2 linked regions of the Homo sapiens genome follow. The protein of the gene in region 1 interacts with the protein of each later gene in a pairwise test. Each region holds a gene or a part of one and is shown on either strand. Other genes may lie near its edges.

The links.
Region 2: the proteins of ONECUT3 (region 1) and SH3RF1 interact in a two-hybrid assay, tested with the Homo sapiens proteins (one large-scale study listed by BioGRID).

Annotation. Positions count from the first base shown.
Region 1 is NC_000019.10:1,752,018-1,756,589, forward strand, and holds the start of ONECUT3 (one cut domain family member 3), read left to right. Parts: upstream 1-1,488; 5' UTR 1,489-1,645; coding exon 1,646-2,837; intron 2,838-4,572. UniProt on the Homo sapiens protein: Transcriptional activator. Binds the consensus DNA sequence 5'-DHWATTGAYTWWD-3' on a variety of gene promoters such as those of HNF3B and TTR.
Region 2 is NC_000004.12:169,264,433-169,268,236, reverse strand, and holds part of SH3RF1 (E3 ubiquitin-protein ligase SH3RF1), read left to right. Parts: intron 1-3,804. UniProt on the Homo sapiens protein: Has E3 ubiquitin-protein ligase activity. In the absence of an external substrate, it can catalyze self-ubiquitination. Stimulates ubiquitination of potassium channel KCNJ1, enhancing it's dynamin-dependent and clathrin-independent endocytosis.

The sequences.
Region 1 (4,572 bases):
AGACTCACCTCCGGCTCCCAGCTGGGCAGGCTGGAGGGCACCCCCTCCCACACCAGAGAAGGGGAAACTGAGGCACAGAAAGGGCCCTATTCCAGAGCCAACCTAGTCTTGGTTCAGAAAATCGCATCTCCAATGTGTAGCCACGTCTACAGGGGCCAGGAAATCTGGATGCAGGTGCAAAGCTGGGGCCGGGGTTTGCCCAGAAGGTTTGCACCAAAGGGGAAGTGACAGCCTGACTGTGTCCTCCCCTCTTCCTTCAGCTTTGAGCCCTGATGCAACCCTCTGAGATGGGGGTAACTGGGGGCTCCCGCGAACCGACTGCCTGACCCATCCCCTTCCTCTTCTAGAAAGTGCACAAGCGTTACCCCGGGGGTGGGGGGGGCAGAGGCAACGGGGAAGCAGGAAGGGGCTGAGGCTGGTTTTGGACTCTGCACCGTAGCCTCTGGCCTACAAGACAGAGCATCCTCTAGATTCTGGTCTGGCCCCTCCAGATCCGCAGCCCTGACCTTACCCCACTGGCGGGATCTAGTCCCCTGGGGGTCTCTCTGATTATAGGAGCCCTTCCCCCATCTATCCCAGTTCCCAGGGGCCCCTGGGGCTCACCTGTCTCCAGGTGCTGAGAAAAAGGAGACCCCTGCCTCCCCCCACATTGAAGAGAAGCCCCAGGGACAAAGAGGAGTTTGCACCAGCGACGTCTCAGAAGACAGGGGATCCAGCCTCAGCCTCCGTGGGCTGGAGGGTGACAGGGGCTCTTAGTGGTCACCCCCAGGCTCCAGTGCCTCCAGCGGCCGCACTGTAAAAAGGCCCTGCAATTAGAAGGGGCCTTTGGCAACCCCGAGGCCGGGCAGCCCATTGTACAGTTGGGGAAACGGAGGCCCAGGTGCCCACACATGGGCAGAGGCTGACCCCTGGGGCGCACGGAGGCCCTGACCTAGCCTTAGGACCTCCCTTTTCCCCCACTTCCTCCACAAAGAGGTTGTGGGAAGGGGGCTGTGACTCCGTAGGTGTGAGTGGGAGTCGGGGGAAGCTGAGCTTGCAGTGGGGATCTAGCTCCTGGGGGTCTGTAGGGAACGGGGGGGGGGGGGGACACGTACATTACAGGCGACCGTCCAGCCACACTCCCAGAAACTCCCTGGAGATGGACTTGGGGGTGCCAGGCAGAAAGCCACATCTGGGACTCTGGAGAGAATCACACAGAGACGCGAAATCGGAGACTCTGGGTCGAGGCCCCCAGCCCCACCTGGGCAGAGTCTGTCCTCGGACCCCCGCCCGCTGTCCCCCGGGTACGGCCTGCCCCAGCGGGCGCGGGCGGGCGCAGTGGCCAGGGACGCCGAAGCCCCAAGTCTGGCCGACTTCGGCCTGCTTGGTGCTCGAGTGGGGCCGGGGCGGGCGGAGAGCGAGGCTGCGGGAGGCAGCGGTGGCAGGAGCGGGTGGGCGGGGGCGCTGACGTCAGACCCGGGCCCGGGCGCCGGCGGCCGCTCCCCTGCCACATCCTGGTGGCCGCGCTCGCAGCCGGGCCGGGCCGTGCGCCGCGCAGCCTGGCAGCCTCGCGCGCAGCCACCGGGGAGCGGGCGGGAGTCATGCAGCGGCCTTGAGCACTAGGGGCCGGCGCTGAGGAGCGCGCGCGGCGGGAGGGCAGCCGAGCATGGAGCTGAGCCTGGAGAGCCTGGGGGGCCTGCACAGCGTGGCCCACGCGCAGGCGGGCGAGCTGCTGAGCCCGGGCCACGCGCGCTCGGCGGCGGCGCAGCACCGCGGCCTGGTGGCGCCCGGGCGCCCGGGCCTGGTGGCCGGCATGGCGAGCCTGCTGGACGGCGGCGGCGGCGGCGGCGGTGGGGGCGCCGGGGGCGCGGGCGGCGCGGGCAGCGCGGGCGGCGGCGCGGACTTCCGCGGGGAACTGGCGGGCCCGCTGCACCCGGCAATGGGCATGGCCTGCGAGGCGCCGGGCCTGGGCGGCACCTACACGACGCTCACGCCCCTGCAGCACCTGCCGCCGCTCGCGGCCGTGGCCGACAAGTTCCACCAGCACGCGGCGGCCGCGGCCGTGGCCGGGGCGCACGGCGGCCATCCCCACGCGCACCCGCACCCGGCGGCCGCGCCGCCCCCGCCACCCCCGCCGCAGCGTCTGGCGGCCAGCGTGAGCGGCAGCTTCACCCTCATGCGCGACGAGCGGGCGGCGCTCGCCTCCGTGGGCCACCTCTACGGACCCTACGGCAAGGAGCTGCCCGCCATGGGGTCGCCGCTGTCGCCGCTGCCCAACGCGCTGCCGCCCGCGCTGCACGGCGCCCCGCAGCCCCCGCCGCCGCCACCACCCCCGCCGCTGGCCGCCTACGGCCCGCCAGGCCACCTGGCTGGGGACAAGCTGCTGCCGCCCGCCGCCTTCGAGCCGCACGCCGCGCTGCTGGGACGCGCGGAGGACGCACTGGCCCGCGGGCTGCCCGGAGGCGGCGGCGGCACAGGCAGCGGCGGAGCGGGCAGCGGGAGCGCCGCGGGGCTGCTGGCGCCGCTGGGCGGGCTGGCGGCGGCCGGGGCGCACGGGCCGCACGGGGGAGGCGGCGGCCCCGGCGGGAGCGGCGGCGGCCCCAGCGCGGGCGCAGCGGCCGAGGAGATCAACACCAAGGAGGTGGCGCAGCGCATCACGGCGGAGCTGAAGCGCTACAGCATCCCGCAGGCAATCTTCGCGCAGCGGATCCTGTGTCGCTCTCAGGGCACGCTCTCCGACCTGCTGCGCAACCCCAAGCCGTGGAGCAAGCTCAAATCCGGCCGCGAGACCTTCCGCAGGATGTGGAAGTGGCTGCAGGAGCCAGAGTTCCAGCGCATGTCGGCGCTGCGCTTGGCAGGTAGGAGCGTGGCGCGCAGGGCCAGACCCTGGGGGCGCCGGCTCTGGACTCCCGAGCACCTAGCGGGGCGGCGGCCGATGCCCGGGGCCAGCGCCCCAAGCCCCGCCCGTGCGCCCCGGCAGCCCGGGACCCCCTATCAGGAAGCTAGACCGCGATCCGCGCCGCTGCCCGTTTGTACCGTTGCCAAAAGGGAGAAAGGGATTGTGCCGCCTCCCCGCCCCCCGGTCGCCGCTTCTGCCCCTTTCGGGAGCGCGTAGGGGTTCTCTAGTCCTTGTTAGACTGCTGGGAGGCTCCGAGCCTCTCCCCAAGCAGCCCTCAGGGAAGCTCATTGTGTGTGTGCGTGTGTGTGTGTGAGCGCGCGCCTGTTGGGGGGAGCTGTGTCCCCGAACGAGCTGCTGTTGTCGGCTAAGGTGCCACTCCCCTCCTCCAGAGTGGGTGGAGAGGGGCTGTTGAGCCCCCAGCCCCGGGCCACAGAGCTCCGAGACGTTGCGGCGGGCGCCTGCAGCTCAGCAGCAGAGGCCGAGCCCGCGCTCATCCCCCCACCTGCCCCAGCGCGCGCTTCTTTGTAGTTCGGCCCCGCGATCGATACCCCCTCCCTCTCCCCTCCGGCCGCTGGCAAAGGTCACCCGAGAATGGCGGGGGAGGGGCGGCCCCGGGGACCCTCGGCCCGCGCCGCCCGGAGGCCTTCACACCCCGACCCGGCGCCCGCCCCGCGCAGTTTGGTCGTGGCTCGGGTGCGCGCGCCCCTGCCCGCCTGGCTTTGGGGTTTTGTGTCTCTCATGTCCACTTCTCTCCTCTCTCGGTCGGAACACACTGGTATCTCTATGTTTTTCTCTTGCTCTCCGTTTTGCTCTTGTTCCTGCTCATTATCTCTTCTCCCTGTCGGTCTCTCCGCCTCTGTCTCTGTCTCATACTCAGCCACCGGCCCCCTGGGGACCCTCCTCCCTCCTCCCTCCCAGCTGACAACAGCTAAGTCCACACCTGCCCTCTGACAGGCAGCCCGGCCAGGCCCCCATTTCCTAGGTGGGGGTGTAAGGGTGCAGGAGGGCCCCTGGCCTAGGTGGGGGTTTCTTTCCCTGGTGGTGCTGGGGAGGGGGCTGTCCACCCGGGCCACAGGGACAATAGCCGCGGCGGCTGGCGCCTGATCGATCGCTTCTCCGAGCACAAGGGCGAGAAAGGCGGGGGCTCTGGGAGGCGCCCCACTAGCAAAGAGGCAGAGGGGCTTGCGGCTGTGCCCCCAGGCAGCCCGTCCAGGCAGGGGGGCTGGGCGAAGAGAGGACAGCGGGGTGTCCTGTGCTGTTCCTCCCTAGAAAGCCATTCCCTCCCTCCACCCCAGGAGGACCAGACAACCCCCTGGGAGCCTGGACCCACAGGCCGGCCTCAGTTTCCCCCTTCTGCAGAGCAAGCAAGGTGACTAGCTGGAACCTCTTATGGGATTCTTAGATTTTTCTGCTTTGGGGCACGGGAAAATAAATAGTCTTTCGCGTGTGGCAGGGTAACCTTGTGCTCAGGGAGGTCCGGGAACCTGGACGATTTCAGTCTGTCCTGCTCCCCTCCCCATGACACATACAGCGGCACTCGTGCGCTCACCATAGACCGGCGGTCATATCCGCACACAGCCACGGCCCTCGAGGTGCAGTGCGAGGCCTCAGGTGGCAGAGGGCACACCCCTGGCAGCTCTATTTATTTATTGAGACGGAGTTTCACTCTTGTCGCCCAGGCTGTAGTGTAGTGG
Region 2 (3,804 bases), on another chromosome or scaffold:
ATCTAGCTTTATGTTGGGCTTTATAGTGAATGAAATGAAGTATTTCCATCGAAATGATTTTTCTTGGGATTTGAGTTTGGGCTGAAATAATTTTAGATGAAGCTAATTATTTGGACAGCTACCACAACTGTCACACAAAATTTCTGTATTTATTAGAAATATATATAAATAATCTGTATTTATTAGAAATATAGGTATTTCTAATAAATATAAATTATGTTGCAGGTGATGGATTCCTGATAAAATGTGCTTTCTCATTTTTGCAAAAATAAAAAGTAGTCAAGAGCATCAGTAATTAAAACAACTTCATTTTTGTAAGAAGAAGGAATTCTAAATTATTGGCCAAACTGGTAAAATCTGCTTTTAAAGAACAATTAATCTAGATGAGAATATTTTTTTCAAATGTCTTCAGTAAGCACTCAAAAGTGATGTCTTTCATTTAATACAGGAACTGCCCATTGGGATAGCATTAGTTCCCATAATTCGCAGATGTGGATACCAGGCAGTTTTAACAGAATAGTTTTCCTACTACTTTCTCAGGCTCATCTTTTGTAAATGATAGGAAGTATTTAAGTATATAGACCATTTTAATCACTGGAAAACCTGATCAGAAAACAGTTTCATCATTAAGGCTGTCAGGTTTCTTTTGACATATTTATTTATTTAAAGATAGTGAGAACTCTGGGATAGGGAGGTTTTCTTTTCCTTATTTGGAGCCCACATGTTGTGAAACTGATCTGCTTACAGTGCTTTTCTTAGATTTCCTTTATTTTATGGAGTTTACTTATTTGGACTCGAATATTTTAATCCCAGAACCAGTGATCAAGTTGATAATTTCTGAGACACCTGATGTAGGTCTGTTTAGCTTAATAAAGGTGTAGATTTGCATCTTTGGAAAGGTTTTGTTTCCCTGTTAATTAGACTAGGGAAGGCATGGCTTCCTGGAATACTGTATCTTAGTTGTTGACACTGCCTTACCTGTTGTGAGGAATGCATTGAATGTTTGTTCACTGATAAAGAGGAATTTAAGGAGAGGCTCAAACACTCAACTTAATGTCTTTTGAATTTTAAGTTTTCTTGCTAACATGGAAATTGACTATGTAATTCTCATTTATCTGAACTGCTAAGCTCCCAAAATTGAACTTCATAGGTAAATTATTTGGAGATTTTGATCATGTTAGTATTATTTTTCTGGTTTATATGCTTTTCCTAATTTACTTCATGTTTCTTCTTTAGCATGAGAAAAATTACTTGCCAAGAAACTCAACTAAACTTGAGCCTTATAACTGGGATAAAATAGTTGAGGTGGATGGAACAGGAAATATGTCTGTTACTTTGCTGGGGGAGGATGGAGGACAAAAACAAACCTATTCAGTAGTCTGAGTTGATGCAATTGATGCAATACTTAGAAAAAGAACAGCCTTTTTTCTAGTTTAAAATAGTTTTTCGAGCCAGGTACTGTGGCACTCGCCTCTAGCCCCTAGCTACTTGCATCTTCAGTCCTAGCTACTCCAGAGGCTGGGGCCGGAGGATCACTTGAGCCCAGGAGTTCAAGTCTAGCCTAGACAACATAGCAAGACCCCTCCCCCTGCTACCCCTCCCCCATCCCCTGCCCCCCACCCCCCTTTTTTAAAAAAAAGCTTTCTCAGTAAGTTACTAGTACCTTTTGCTTTCAAATATTCAGAACAGTCAGGGCCATACATATAGTTCAAACACCTGAAAGGTCAATACATTTCTAGAAAAGACTCCTTTTAAGAGTGAGAATTCTGTAACATGAAGCCACATGGATATTGTAAGGCACTTCTTTGGACGCTTCCCTTAGGTGAGTGACTGTAATAAATCCCAAATGTGCATCCTCCTCCCTTAAGTGTTCTGACACAACCAAGTGGTGCAGTGAGCCTGTTTCCATATGTTGTGCAAAGCTGAAAGTGATAACGTGGAATGTTGCTTCAGTTTATTAGTTATGTTCTGTGTTTGGTTAGGCTGTGACCATGTGGCCTCCTCATGCGTTTAGCCAAAGTATATTGAATGTTATCAACAGATTTGAACATTTCCAATGTGTGACGCACATCTTGTTCCCAAAATTTTAGTGTTTCCTGCCTAATTTGAAGGAGAAAAGGAGAGTGTGGGATTGGAATCACCATGGGAATCCATCAGTTTTTTACCTCTAAGTAAAGAATTCCTGTTGGTTTTAGGCCAAAGTCAAGCAGTGGAATGAGCCATAGGGAGAGGGACACTGCTGATACCTGTCTATGGCCTAAGAAATGTAGCTGCAGAAGTTAAAATGCATATATATAAATTAGATAAGGAAAGCATGGTTTTTAAGTAGTTCCTATAGAATTTAGACCTAATAGTTTCTGCTTTTTATGCGCAGTTCCAATGATTTAAGGAATCATTAAGTAATGATATGTAAACATAAATATGCATAGATATTAACTTCTCTTTAATATTCTCTTAAGCTGGCCAGGTGTGGTGGCTCACGCCTATAATCCCAGCAGTTTGGGAGGCCGAGGAGGTGGGTGGATCACTTGAGGTCAAGAGTTCCAGACCACCATGGTCAACATGGTGAAACCCCGTCTTTACTAAAAATACAAAATTAGCCGGGTGTGGTGGCACGTGCCTATAACCCCAGCTACTCAGGAGGCCAAGGCTGGAGAATCGCTTGAACCTGGGAGGCAGAGTTTACAGTGAGCTGAGATCGCACCCTTGCACTCCAGTCTGGCCAAAAAGAGCGAAACTCCATCTCAAAAAAAAATTCTTTTAAGTTCTCTTAATATCTCTTAACATTAAGTTCTCTTAATATCTGTGCATGTTTCTGTTTAGATATTATTACTTAATGATTTCATGATGCCTCTACTTCACAGCAAATTTATTCATCCAAAAAATAGATCACATGAGACCCCCTGATTTATACTAATTTATACTTAGTTTATTCGTTGCTTTATTTAATAAATACTTCTTAAGCACTCATTAGGTGCCGGGCACTACACTAGCTGCTGGATAGGTAATGGTAGACAAACCATTCTTAGCTTTTGAATGTGTAGTCCATCTTGTGGGAGAGACACATTAGGTTTTGAATGTATAGTCCATCTTGTGGGAGAGACACATTAAGAAAATAATAACAATGCAGGCATGTAATTAAGTAAGTTCTAAGACACAAAGCTAGGGGAGAGGATAGAAGAAAGACCTGCATTTAGCGTGAGGGTGAATTGTGTGTGTGATCTTCAAAAGCTTCCTGAGGAAGAGGCATCTGAGCTGAGATCTTAAGGGTGAAATGATATTAATTAGGGAATGGGGGCTGGGCAGGGAAGGGGCAGAGGCGAAGAATATTTCAAAGGGGCTGACCTAAACAGGAAGGGATGTGCCTCCTAGGAAGAACTGACAGAAGGTAAGTGTGAACTAGGCAAGCCACAGGGATGGTGTAAGATGAGGCCTCAAATTTGATAATGTAGAAGGCATCAAGAACTGCCCCAAGGGCCACGTAGGGTGAAGGGTCAGATGGGTAGGATAGATAGGAAGTGCTCTGCATTTGGGATAAGAAAGAGGGACCATTGGGACTGAGACGATTAGCAGGGCTTCAGAACAGATACGGGATTGGAGCTTGTGTCAAAGAATGGAGAGATCGGGAAAGAAAGGTAGGGAATTCTAGATATGAGGGAACACACATGAAATTTATTTTCCCCTGTAAATGCTGTGTCTGCTTTCATTTCTCCATAGCACAGTCATACCTCCTTTCTCCCTCTTTCCCTGTTGCTGACTGTTAGGGGCTGAATTATGTCCCCCAACATTGCTACGTTGAAGTTC